Linked DNA regions of Homo sapiens. The protein of the gene in region 1 interacts with the protein of each later gene in a pairwise test. Each region holds a gene or a part of one and is shown on either strand. Other genes may lie near its edges.

Region 1 (7,110 bases):
AGTTCTTTGTAGATTCTGGATATTAGCCCTTTGTCAGATGGGTAGATGGTAAAAATTTTCTCCCATTCTGTAGGTTGCCTATTCACTCTGATGGTAGTTTCTTTTGCTGTGCAGAAGCTCTTTAATTAGATCCCATTTGTCAATTTTGAGTTTTGTTGCCATTGCTTTTGGTGTTTTAGTCATGAAGTCCTTGCCCATGCCTATGTCCTGAATGGTATTGCCTAGGTTTTCTTCTAGGGTTTTTCTGGTTTTAGGTCTAACATTTAAGTCTTTAATCCATCTTGAATTAACTTTTGTATAAGGTGTAAGGAAGGGATCCAGTTTCAGCTTTCTACATATGGCTAGCCAGTTTTCCCAGCACCATTTATTAAATAGGGCATCCTTTCCCCATTTCTTCTTTTTGTCAGGTTTGTCAAAGATCAGATGGTTGTAGATGTGTGGTATTATTTCTGAGGGCTCTGTTCTGTTCCATTGGTCTGTATCTCTGTTTTGGTACCAGTAGCATGCTGTTTTGGTTACTGTAGCCTTGTAGTATAGTTTGAAGTTGGATAGGGTGATGCCTTCAGCTTTATTCTTTTGGCTTAGGGTTGTCTTGGCAATGCAGGCTCTTTTTTGGTTCCATATGAACTTTAAAGTAGTTTTTTCCAATTCTGTGAAGAAAGTCATTGGTAGCTTGATGGGGATGGCATTGAATCTATAAATTACCTTGGGCAGTATGGCCATTTTCACAATATTGATTCTTCCCATCCATGAGCATGGAATGTTCTTCCATTTGTTTGGTCCTCTTTTACTTGGTTGAGCAGTGGTTTGTAGTTCTCCTTGAAGAGGTCCTTCACATCCCTTGTAAGTTGGATTCCTAGGTATTTTATTCTCTTTGTAGCAATTGTGAATGGGAGTTCACTCATGATTTGGCTCTCTCTTTGTCTGTTATTGATGTATAGGAATGCTTGTGATTTCTGCACATTGATTTTGTATCCTGAGACTTTGCTGAAGTTGCTTATCAGCTTAAGGAGATTTTGGGCTGAGACGATGGAGTTTTCTACATGTACAATCATGTCATCTGCAAACAGGGATAATTCGACTTCCTCTTTTCCTAATTGAATACCCTTTATTTCTTTCTCCTGCCTGATTGCCCTGGCCAGAACTTCCAACACTGTGTTGAATAGGAGTGGTGAGAGAGGGCATCCCTGTCTTGCGCCAGTTTTCAAAGGGAATGCTTCCAGTTTTTGTCCATTCAGTATGATATTGGCTGTGGGTTTGTCATAAATAGCTCTTATTATTTTGAGATACGGCGGACGCATCACTTGAGGCCAGGAGTTCGAGACCAGCCTGGGCAACATAGTGAAATCCTGTCTCTACTAAAAATACAAAAAACATTAGCCAGGCATGGTGGTGCACGCCTGTGGTACTGGCTACTGAAGAGGCCGAGTTCGTGCTACTGCACTCCAGCCTGGGCAACACAGCAAGACTTGGTCTCAAAAATAAATAAATAAATAAATAAATAAATAAATAAATAAATAAATAGATATAGAAACTAAGAAGATGATGGTGTTACTCACTGGATGCAAAATGTAACCAACCAGTTATGTAATTGTACTCTGAATCTGTTCTTCTAGTATTGTGAAAGAATGGTATTGGCATAAAGATGTGATTTTTTTCTTGTATGTATTGTTAAAGTCACAGAAAATCATCTATATTGTGGTAAGAGAGAATATATGCCAGACAAATGCTCTGCTGTCTGTCAGAAAGAGGAATAAAGACACAATCTGGAACCAGGAAATAAATAATAATAATAATAATTATTATTATTATTATCAAAAGGAATAATCAGACACTTTAGCAAAAGAAATAAGTTGGAGGGCATTTGTCTTTATTGTCTCTTTTCTATTTAATTCATTTCTTTTTATGCTTTCTTTGACTATAATTTGCACTTGCTTTAGTTTCTCAAGATGAATGCTTAATTTTTAAACTCTTCTTTTCAAATGTAGGCATTTGAAATTATAAATTTCCCTCGAAACAGTTCTTTAGTTGCATCCCGTAAGTTTTGGCATTGTATTTTTGTTACCATTTTGTTAGAAGTATTTTCTAATTTCCCTTCATTTTTTTTTTTTTTTTTTTTGAGATGGGGTTTCGCTCTTGTTGCCCAGGCTGGAGTGCAGTGGCACTATCTCTGCTCACTGCAACCTCTGCCTCCCGGGTTCAAGCAATTCTCTTGCCTCAGCCTCCCGAGTAGCTGGGATTATAGGCATGCACCACCACGCCCAGCTAATTTTGTATTTTTAGTAGAGATGGGGTTTCTCCATGTTGGTCAGGCTGGTCCCAAACTCCCGACCTCAGGTGATCCACCTGCCTCAGCCTTCCAAAGTGCTGGGATTATGGGCCTGAGCCCCCGGCACCCCGCTTCCTTGTTTTTCTCTTTAACACATGAGTTATTTAGAAGTATGTTATATAGTTTCCACCTATTTGGAGATGTGAAAAAGATTTTAACTGATTTATAATTCCAGGTGGTCAGACCCTGAAAGATGTCAGTCTTTTCAAATTTGTTGAGCCTTATTTTATGGCCCAACATCTGTTCTTTCTTGGTGAATGTTCTGTGCACACCTGTTAGGATGTGTATTCCACAGTTTTTGGTGTAGAGGATGGTGTATCTGATTGTATTTATTCTACTTAAGTTTTTTTCTCCTGTGATATTTCTTTCTTTTTTTTGAGACAGAGTCTCACTCTGTCGCCCAGGCTGGAGTGCAGTGGCACAATCTTGGTTCACTGCAACCTCTGCTTCCTGGGTTTAAGTGATTCTCATGCCTCAGCCTCCCAAGTAGCTGGGATTACAGATGTGCACCATCACGCCTGGCTATTTTTTGTATTTTTAATAGAGACGGGGTTTTGCCCTGTTGGCCAGGCTGGTCTCAAGCTCCCGGCCCCATGTGATCCACCTACCTTGGCCTCCCAAAGTGCTGAGATTACAGGCGGGGGAGCCCCTGCGCTGGTATTGGTATTTCTAATAGTGCTTTATTACTCAATGATAGAAGTGCTGAAGTAAAACAGATTTTCAATTTTAACTCTATAAAATTGTGCTAAGAAAATGATGGCGTTACAAAATGTAACCAACCGGTTATCTAGTTGCATTCTGAATCTCTGAATCTGTTCTGCTAGTATGAAGGCTTGAGAGTGGCTATCTAGCAGTATGAACTTATTGTCAGTTTTGCCTAGTTCAGCTAAAAATTTTGAGCTAAAACATTTTGTTTCATCTTAGTCGTGGATTGTAATTTGAAAGAGAACTTCAGACATGAAGTACTAAATAAGTGATATAAGCCATTTTGGCACAAAATGGAATAACAATGCCTTAAATTTGATAAAAACTAGGTGGATTCGGGCTTTATCATTTTCATTTCAACTCCAATACCACAAAGTTTCAGTTCTCTGTGGAGTCCTAGAATGTTCTTCCAATAATCTTGAGCTTACGGTAGACATAAGTTTTAGCAAAAATGTCAGTGTGTTCAGTTACAGTGGTGAAGTAGATTCCCTGCTGGGAACAAAGGATTCTGTGTGCCATATTCAGATGTACAACATTCCAGAATGAGAGTCATGCAAGAAACTGCCTCAGGACAAGCCAGAGTTGTCATATTTTTAATATGTTTTCTTACTGTTACAGAAGTTCAAACAGTTGAATGATATAAATTGTTTTGTACTATGGGTCCAATATAGTATTGATGTGTGACTTTTATATCTGAGACATTTTGTCTTGAGTTTAAGTTAGTTGTCTTCATTGGCAGGGGTGATTTGAGGTGAGTTTCACTTTCTTGAACCCATGTGCCTGATAATTAGAGGGTTCAGGATAAGTTTTGCACATAGCCTTGCTGCCTGCTTATCTTTGTAAAATGGCCCTTTCCTTCAGTCAGTATTTTAAAGTAGGCTACTCTATATAGTTTCCCAAACTCTGGTAGGATACTTTTAACTCTCTGCAGCAGATAGTATAGGGCAAGGGCTCTTTACTAGAGCCAAAAGTAAATGGCATTTTAGGTCCTTGCTCCAACCAGAAAGGTTCACTCCATATTACAGATGTTACTATTAGGAAGAGGTTATAGTGTCTAGAATGTTTGAAAACAAATGTTTGTAGGGAAACAGTGTGTGTTCTTGAAGCTTGTAGTTTTGTTGGTGAGATAAGACAAAATATGTGAAAACCTAAATAGTGGTATAAAACAGGATATATTGAGTCCCAGATGGTTCATAATATGAGTCGTGAAGATGCCAAAGCAAAGGTAACCATTGTGGCCGTGACAGGGTTGGAAAGGAGCTCCTGAGGTTGGGAGAGACAGAAGGAAAGCTATGAAGGTCGCTCCTTGTTCTTTGGCCATCTCTGACTCATCCTATATTATTTGGTTAGGAAAGGAATTATCTCACAGTTTTTATCTTCTGTTTGCAGCCTGAAGAGTTGAGAGAAATCATTGAGAAGACAAGAGAGATGGAGCAGAACAATGGCCACTACTTTGATACGGCAATTGTGAATTCCGATCTTGATAAAGCCTATCAGGAATTGCTTAGGTTAATTAACAAACTTGATACTGAACCTCAGTGGGTACCATCCACTTGGCTGAGGTGAAAGAAACATCCATTCTGTGGCATGTTGGACTTGATCTGGCAAAAACTGCCAATAGGAGGACTGCCCGACACTGCAGCAAGATTGAGGATAAGATGGAAGGCAGCAGTATAAGCTGTAGATCTGTTCTTAGATCTCTTGAATTAGTGAGACGACAGTTCCCTTAGGCAGTTTGTGCATGGCATCCTTTATTCTCTATACATGGCTTTAGCGGTTCTTGCCTCATTTTGGGATTCTAAATGGAAGCTTTCAACAGAGCATTCCATTTTGTCCTGTTAAAACCTTTTGTTTTCACCTAAACCCTTTCTGCTTAGTTGTATCTCTGTGAAAAACTTGTATACACAAGCGTCCATGTCTCACACAAATATTGATGTGATTATTCTTAAGTGTTAAATCATTAACACTTAAATGACTTCATTGGGAATATTGAGCAGAGGGACTGTGCTTCTATGCACTGGGCAAGGCAGTATTTGCTTAGGAAACTAATTTAGTCATCAGAGATACTTTCCTAAAAAGGAAAAATAAAAAACAAAATGGTGCCACTTTGGGTTGAAGCTACTTTGTTAGGCTTGAATTCATTTATATGTCTTTTGATTCTTAAAAAAACAAAAAACATTCCATTAGAAGCACCAGTTTTTTTGCTCAGACTTTGTGGATCAGACTCTACACTCAACACACTCTAATCTACTTAAAGGTATACAAAATATGCTGATCTTTTTTAAATTATGATTTCCTGAATTTTTTTCTTAAGTCGTCTCAACTGATTTACTCACTTAGCTTCCCTTCCCTCATCAGCATAGTATAATAGAATGTATGTTACATTTTTATGAATGGCAGGTGTTCATTATAATCTGTATTGACTTAAAAAGTTTCTTCCTCATGATGCTAATAGTTTTTTGTATACATGGGAGGATAGCACATTTGACAGTTTTTGCATTTTTATGTATGAGCACAGTATCCTATGACTGTGCTACGTATATATAGGTAATAAACTGGAATTCTGTTGATGAATATAGCTGCTGTACTGTATATTAATATTTAATAGATCAACAAATGGTCATTGAAAACACTTGTTTAGCATTAGAATAAAATTATATATGTCCTTGGGAAATATTATGACAGTTGACTTTAAGATCAAAAGGAAGGGAAGACCTGAAAGTCATTTGAACATTTTAGGAAAAGAATATTGGAGAGAAAAAGGTATTAAATATATAGAAATAGGTTTTTAACCTAACAAGGTCTGCCTCTTATGACGAGAATGCAACAGCTTGGTAAATCATAAAAGAAACATTTAAGCTAATAGGATTTTCGTACTGTCTCTATAGCTGTAGCTTTAAAATTCAACGTATATAATTGGCATGGAAACTTAATTTGCAGTCTTTTCAAGCCTTTAGGATAGTGTGATGTGTAACAAACAACCTCAAATGTGAATGCCTTGATTTTATTTTTATGGTGACTTTAGCTACAGCATTTCCTATACCCAGAGCTAAACACTGGAATAATACTGACATCATTTAATTTAACATAAGCAATTATGTTTAAGGAGTAATTTGTGTCATGTACATATTTGATTGATTTTTTTTCTTCTACATAATTTTATTTGAACAAATGTAGACAGTTTATATGTCGCCTTTTTCTGTTCAAATTTGCATGGCCTATTAAGTTGGCTGGAGAGTGTTTTATGTGGAAATATTTTCAAGATAATGTTCCTTAGGAAGAAAATAACATTCTTGGGTTGAGGGAAGGAATGCCATACACTACTGTCTCTTCAGATCTGAAATACTCCAGTTTAGAGCCAGGAAATTTCACAGGTCACACCGATTTTTAGCATTAAAAACTAAGGAATATACTTAGCACTTACTTAATCTTTTCAGTTTTCCAGTTTACGTCTCAGGAATGAAGTGTAGTCTATGGTTGACAATGGAGTTTTGTGATCCTGCTTATTGTAACTGACAACTGTTTTCAACTCCAAGAGCTAAACTATTGGCAGTTCATGTTAAGTTAGAGTGAGGGTGTAGGTAGTGTCAGTGAGTGGCTCTTGTGCCTGCTGTAGACATTAGGCCTGCACTAGGGCCATGTGCTGTCAAGATTCAGGAACATGGCTTTAACAAGCAGATCTTGTATCAAGGCAGAGGTGATGCCATGCCATACTTTTAGGAAGTCTGAGATGATAAATATTTCAAGGTCAGTGAAGTCTATCAATCATTCTCCCCTTCCTCATCAGCAATGGTAGATAGAAATGTCCTAAACTTTTCTAAATCCTAGTGATGAGGATGTGCTGATATTCAACATAGTCCTTAAAGTGAAAACTGAGTTGTTGCTGACCTCCACAAAAGAATATGGAAAAAAGCCTTGCTGTACACCTAGTTGTACAGCCACTCTGGCCAATTCCATTTCCTGTCCCTCTGTGGTTCTGACTGGAGACCCCAGTGTGGGGGAGGTCTTACCATTTAATATAGAAATGATATCAATAACTAATGCTATGTACTTGGAAAATCCAAATAAGGAAGTTT
Region 2 (7,297 bases), on another chromosome or scaffold:
ACTGTCCAGAAAGGGGCTGGCTATAAAGCCTACACCCCTCCATATGGTGCAACGCTGTACAGCTGGTAAACGTGACCTCGTACATGAACGTTTTGAGACAAGGAAAAGGTGGGCCTAACACTGTTAAGGCAGGATTTAAAGCAGCAGAAGATATTAGCCGGAGTCTGTTTAGGATGAAAACAAAATTTATCTGCCAAAAAACGGAAGAAAACGCCCCCTAAAAAAGATACTTGTTGTCTCTGGGGATAAAGCTTATGCGCGGTTTCATTTTATTCTTCTTTTAAACATATTTCCCTAGTTTTCTATAATGAATGTGTGATGTTTTTGAAATTAAAGCAAATGTTATTTTAAAACCCATCTGTGAGCAAGCTCTAAGGGAGCAGGCCCAGGAGGTCCTGGCCCTGGGATGTCTGCTCTGGCCTGGCCTGACCCAGCCCCCTGGCACAGGGCTGCTCCTCAAGACAAGGGCACAAAGCCCTTGATGGATCCCAGGTACCTATTTTTGCTCAGAGTATTAAGGGACAAACCAAGGAACATTCCAGCTCTATCCAATGTGGCACATTCACAGGAACAGAGGGGTTTGAATTGGGACTGCCCCAAGCAGCATTCATGACGGCCATAGTGGCCAAGCCCCCACCACACACCTGGCACCTGCTCCAGGCCTGGCCTGGATGGGCAGCAGGTGTGGACTGAGGGTAGGTCCATCTTGTGCCAAGCACTGTGCTGGGCCCCCCTGCCCTAGAGAAGTCTTGTCCAGGGCCAGCATTGGAGCAGCTTCATCTAGATGGGAAGGGTTAACACCTAAACAGACACCCACAAAGACGGCACAGAAGGGGGCCCTCACTCCACTGTGGGAAGAGGCAGGCCAGAAATCCTGCAGGAGGACTTGACTGAGCCTTCTGGACAAGCAGGCAGGAGCCAGGCAAGCTGGGAGGTGGCTGGGCATTCCAGCAGGGGTTGTGCCCAGAAGAGGAGGCAGCAGAGGGACAGTGAGCCAGGCTTGTGGCCAGGAACACGCAGGTGGCTGGGAGGTGACTGCTGGAGAGAGGACACAGGAGGGAGAGGCTGAGTGAGCAGCGAGGCGGGTCCCTGAGGGCCCGAAAGAATGCCGGCTCCTGGCTCGGGAGGCGGACCTGACCCGATAGCCCAGAGGGAAGTGGCAGCTGAAGAACCAGCAGGGCTGCGTGCAGCCAGGCCCGGATCGGGACCAGGGAGGAGCCTGGGGGTCGTCCAGGGAGAGGCGAGGGTCCTGAACCAGGGCAGGCATCCGAGTGAGGCTCAGGAGCCAGGAGAGACCCAACTGGGAGTGAGGAATGAAGGGCACAGGGGGTGGTCTGGTTTGTGGCTGGGGCTGGCTGGCTGTGGTGGTACCACTTCCGGAAGTAGGGAAGTGGGAGGGGAGGGGAGCCGTGTAGGCATAAAGCTCCCGACCTATTATGATTCTTATTGCCACCGTCAAGGATGGGTGTTTCGGGTCTGTCTGGCAGTGCAGACATCTCTGGGGGTTGAGACTGAGCTGAGGTCCCCTCTGTGACCAGCCCCAGAAGCCTGTCCAGCACTGGTCCGGGATGGGCAGGGGAGGCCTAAGTCAGAGACGCCCTCCATGCTCTTCCATCCTGGGAAAGAAGGTGAGATGGGGTCTCCCAGCCAACTTTTCCTGTGTCTGCGAAGGGAGGACAAACCAGCAGGTAGGGAAAAGAGGCTGAAATGTGGAGAAGCCTCCCTCCAAATCCCTGGTTGGATACAACGGAGACCCCATGGGAATCACAGACCCTTGGACACAGAAGTAAACAGGTGGCGACAGTGACAAAGGTGGCCTCTGGGCTTCCCGTGGGCTCCCTCTCCTGCTGCAGAGAACAGGCAGCCAGCACATGGGGTACCCAGGGCACAGCTCCTTGAGTGATGGATGCTGGCATAAGAGAAAGCCCTTTACAAACTGCAAAGCCCTGGGCCAAATGCCAGGGGTCACTGTCCAAGGTGAGGAGAGACGGGGCTGCTTCTGGAGAGATAGGGCAGAGGCCTCACACCAGGCTCTGCCCCATCAGCTTCGTGGTCCTGGGCTGGCACCAAACCCTGCTGAGCCTCAGCTTCCTGGGGTGTCAAACGGGGACTATAACTTCTCCGCCTAAGGCTACTGAGAGGGTTAAATCTGGGTGGTGGGGGGTTGCACAAATGCGACTTCCTTGGAATTCATAACATCATCTGCTAAGTGGGTGAGAGGCCAGGGCGCCATCACATCCAAAAGGGCTGGGTAGGATTCTCCAGAAAGTTTTCGTTGATCAAACAAAAAGCTAATGATCCAGAGGGTGGAGTTCATACGAGGCAGGGTCCAGGTGCTGCCACTGAAACCCCTCAACTCTCTACTGAGGGGCCCCGAGAGAGAGAGGAACTGCCACAGCGCTCCTAAGTGGGCTGTGGGGATTCAGAATGACCCCTAAGCTGCCCCTCGGGCGGGCCGGGTCCCCCTGGGGGACTGAACCCCCCTTCCCCCCCACAACACCTCCCGGGGGCCCAGGCGCGTTCCAACGGCCGGGCGGGCACCGAGGGCGGCCGTGGGTCCCGGGACCGCGGGGGAGGGGCATGACGGGGCAACTCGGGGGGGATGGCGCGGGGCGCGGGGAGGGGGCCTGCCCGCCGGCCGCTCCGCCTCTCGGGCCTGCTGTCCCGCCCGCGGCGGGGCTCCAGGCGACAGCGCGCGGGGGACCGGGGCGCGCCCCCCGGGTGACCCGTTCGGGCCCGGAACAGGGGTCGCCTTGCGCGTTGCAGAGCGGGCGGGACCCCCGGCCCTCCAACTTCGGGGACCTTGTCGGGACTTTGGGGCCAGCCACCCATCAGCTCGGAAGGGGAAACTGAGGCCCGAAGAGGACAGTGCCTCAGGGCTCTTGCCCGCCTCCTGCGCGCTGCCCACAGCCACCGCGCCACTGCCCCAGCGCCGAAGTACTCACCGGCCCGTGAGTGGGCCGCACGCGGCGCTGCGACGCCCTGGGGCCTCTGGGCCGGCAGAAAAGTTGTTCGGGAGCAGCTGAACGCGGCGCAAACGGGAGATCTGCGGCCGCGGGGGAGCAATCTGCACTCGCTGCTGAAGAGCCGGCTAGCGCGGCCTTCTGCACGAGGGGGCGGGGCAGGGGCGGGGCCTTCGGCCTCCCTCCACTCCAGACGCGGCCCCCCGGATGCGGCGCCAGCTCGGCCTGCTGAGTGGCCGGTGTAGCCGCCAATCACTCCACATCTCCGCCAATCACGGTGCGCCTCGCCTAGCTGCGGCCCGGCACTCCCCCTGCGTGGTTGGGCCCGAGGGGCCAGAAGGCGGGTCCGGCTCGCCCACAGCGAAAGTTTCCGAGCGGACTCGGGCCCCGGCCCCGCCCCCGCCCCGCCCGCGGAACGTCCAGTTGCTTAGCGAGGCCGCTCGCCTTCTCCTGTAACAGGTGGTTTGGACCCGTGGAAAAGGCTCCGGCCACCTTTCATCCACCACTCCGGCCTCAGCGTCCCCAACTGCAGATTCATTATATTTGCTGTTGCAATATTAACACACGTCTTGAGCGCCTATTCCGGCGCTGCAAGAGAGTCTAAGGGCTCCCCTAATAACAGCAGCAGAGATGGAAAAATGGGGCCTGTTTGAAACGAGTGTCTGCAGCCAAGTACTGCTTTCAGTGCCCAGAATCAAATGCAGTGTAGCAAGCTTTTCACACGGTGACTGTGGGATTCCTTTAAAGTGTGTGTTAGCCCAGGGAGTGGGCAAGGCTCAGGCAGTTTGGAGACTCTGGGAGTTTGGTTCCTGTCTGGGAGGCGTGGTTTGGAGATGAGGGCGAGGGTCTATCCTTGAGAGGCCCTGGGGAACGTGAGACCCTGCCTGCTCTGTCTCTGGTCCCCACAACCAACCTGAGCTACCTGTCCTAGTTATCACAGCAGAAACTGGGGCTCGGAGTGACTGTCAGAGATAATGCTTACCAACATGTTGGGAGCAAATATTCCAGATGGCTTTGGAGATGAGTTCTGAACACACTACTTCGGAGGACTTTTGTCAAAGCGGCGTAGTTCATGTCAGTCACCTCATTTGATTCTCCAGCTGCCCCCACTGCCCACCCCCGATCCCCAATGTTCACGTGTGACCCTGTGAGGCTCACAGAGGAAGGAAGAACACCTGCCGTCAGCCTCGCCTGCTCTGTCCAGGTTGGCTTAGGGGCTTTCACAGCTTTCAAGGGCCCCCCTAGTGACCCAAGGAGGGAGGTGGCACTGAGCCCATTTTTTATTGATGTGAAAATTGAGGCTCAGACATAGTTATTTGCCCAAAGTCTTGAAGATGTCTTTCCACCTTATCACACACTAACTGTAGAAAATTTGGAGAATTACTAAAAGTAGAAAGGAGAAAAAAAATCACTCAAAGATGATCACTGTTCACATTGTGAGATTTATGCACATTTAAGAAAATAATAAATATTAATGTGAACACACAATCACAGAGAGGCTGAAGCACTTCCCAAACCCTTTGCAGGGGCTCATTAAGCAGAGAGAAGAGGACAGATTGAAAAGTTCCTCCTGTGGAGGTCTAAGGGAAGAGAGGAAGTGCAACAAAAAATCTACAAGATGGCTTAAGGAGCCTCTATCAGAACACAGCAACACTGAACATACTCCACGGAGCTAAGAGACTGAAAAAGCAACAGGCAAATTCAGAAAGAGAAGAGTGGAGGTGAGGACAAATGAGCAAACTGGAAGATAATGTGGAGTAAATGCTTCATGATGTAGAGGAAAAGCACATGAAAATCATCAGGACAAAAAGCAGAGACTGGAAAGACAGTTCCAGGAGGTGTATTGCACAAAGGACAGGTACTCCAGGAAGAGCTGGAGGGGAAACAGAGGTGAGCAAAGTGCCAGGAGAACGTGTCCCTGGAAATCCCAGATGCCAAGGATAAAGAGACGGTCTTGCAGAGTTCCAGAAAGAACAGGTCACATCTAAGGGGAGAAAAGTTGAAGTGGTTCCTAGGGGACTTTGGAGCAATGTCCAGGGACTCTGATGATAGGATCAAGGATCCTTACCATGGCTACTACAGGATTCATCTATGTGGACAAAAGAGAGAAAATATCCACTGTGGCAAGACAGAGAAAGGACCTCAGTGATGTCCCCTTTCAGAGGAAGATATTCAGAGTTCCCCCGTCACCGAGACAGTTCAATCACAGTAGAGATTTCAAGATAGAGCAAACGCTCAGAACAGGAAGTGGTGTTAAGCAATGACCCTTGCAAAATATACAGTATGGATAATCCACATGTGCCTGTGATTTTGTACTAGCAGTGCCACATAAGGATTCTTAAAACATAAGCTACATGCTTCAAGAGAAAGTTGTATTAGCCTGGAACTAAAAAAAAAAATAGAATCTTATCACAGAGAAGTCAGAATATTTTAAGATCACATTTGGTTGAGGGGAGAAGGAGGAAGTAAAAGGATCTGATTTGGTGAGTGGGGAAGGAAAGCCTTATTGGTGGTTGGGAGGGGTGCTTCATTACCATTTACTTTTAATACATTAGCAGGGAAAGATTGGTTTAATTATGACTCTCAGCTGGGGAAGGAAAGCCTTATTGGTGGTGGGGAGGGGGCTTCATTACCATTTACTTTTAATACATTATCAGGGAAAGATTGGTTGAATTATGACTCTCAGGAATTGGAAAGTAGCAACTCACGGGAAAGAAGCAGAGTAGAACTCCTGAATTACTAGGTAGAAGTTGGGGGAGGGGTGGAGGGAGAGTAAGGAAGCAAAATTAAGGGGGAAAGTAAATAATAGCAAGAACAATAAGCTTAATAATAGTAAACATAAGATGAGATAAAATAAATAAAGCCATGGCTACCCGCCTTCGTAACACGGTGAATGGGCTGAATTTCCCATCCAAAGTCTGTAAGATTGGGGCAAAAACTAAAGTCCAGTTAAGCGCTATTTACAAGAAACACACCAAAAATATTGAGAAGTAGAAGATCACAGCAGACATTTGAAAAATGGCAAATTACTATTGATAAGGAAGAACGCATGATGGAAAGCATTCACGGGAAGAGTGGTATTATGTAAGGGTGCCAGGCACAATCCACAAAGATTTCATTGTCATGAATCTGAATGAGCCAGAAAATCTAGTAGCCACACACTTAAAGCAGTAACTGCTAGAAATACTAGAACTTATTAAAACACAACTCTGGTGGGAGAAAGAGCCAGCTGTTCAATGCTATCTTTTCTAGGACACCTGTCCTCATTCCCCCAAGAGCTGAGCTCTGCATGTTGCTGCTGAGTATTGAATGAATGAATGGATGGATGGATGGATGAATCACCTATGCAAGGACTTCATATAAGCTCTTTCTTGCCCATAGGACAGTGTCCAAACTCTTTAACCTGACATCCAAATATACCCCCCACAATTCAGTCCTTTGATGTCTGCCCATGATTTTCAGACTCTGCATTCAAGTTCTTGGCCCACTTCCTTCCCTACACCTATTTAAAACCTACTTCCATTTACTCAACAAACATTTAGTGACTTTTGGCCAGGCGTGGTGGCTCACACCTGTAATCCTAGCCCTTTGGGAGGCCGAGGTGGGTGGATCACTTGAGGTCAGCAGTTCGAGACCAGCCTGGCCAACATGGAGAAACCCCATCTCTACTAAAAATACAAAAAAATTAGCCGGGCGTCATGGCACATGCCTGTAATCCCAGCTACACAGGAGGCTGAGGCAGGAGAATCGCTTGATCCCAGGAACTGGAGGTTGCAGTGAGCAGAGATCATGCCACTGCACTCCAGCCTGGGCGACAGAGTAAAACTCTGTCTCAAAAATAATAAGAATAATAATAAAATAAATAAAAATTAAAAAATATAAACATTTAGTGACATCCTGCCTGTTCCAGGCATTGGACTACATGCCAAGTATTCAAAGAAAATGAGGACAGAGGCTTGGTGAGTTGTCATTTGAAAGACAGCAGAGTGTGGCGGTTTACAGGCTATTGGTGTACAAGGCCCCCAAAGAGATCACTTCCTGGAGCCTGTGAATGGTACCTTATTTAGAAAAGGGTTTTTGCAGATGTGATTAAGGATTTTGAGAAGGGGCCATTAGCCTGGCTTATCTCCTTGCAGGAGAGAGGCAGACAGAGATTTGACCACACACGGAGAAGTTGATGTGGACATAGAGCAGAGAGAGATTCCAAGACGCTGGCATTGAAGATAGGAATTATGTGGCCACAAGTCAAGGAATGCAGGCAGTCCCTGGAATCTGGAAGAGCAGGGAACAGATTCTCCTTGATTTTTGCCCAGTGACACTGATTTCAGACTTCC

What was found. The genes of interacting proteins can lie anywhere in the genome.
Region 2: the proteins of PALS1 (region 1) and WFS1 interact in binary tests that used the Homo sapiens proteins (3 or more experiments, as listed by UniProt).

Annotation. Positions count from the first base shown.
Region 1 is NC_000014.9:67,328,357-67,335,466, forward strand, and holds part of PALS1 (protein PALS1), read left to right. Parts: intron 1-4,423; coding exon 4,424-4,600; 3' UTR 4,601-7,110. UniProt on the Homo sapiens protein: Plays a role in tight junction biogenesis and in the establishment of cell polarity in epithelial cells.
Region 2 is NC_000004.12:6,265,663-6,272,959, reverse strand, and holds the start of WFS1 (wolframin), read right to left. Parts: upstream 3,111-7,297; 5' UTR 2,946-3,110; intron 1-2,945. UniProt on the Homo sapiens protein: Participates in the regulation of cellular Ca(2+) homeostasis, at least partly, by modulating the filling state of the endoplasmic reticulum Ca(2+) store.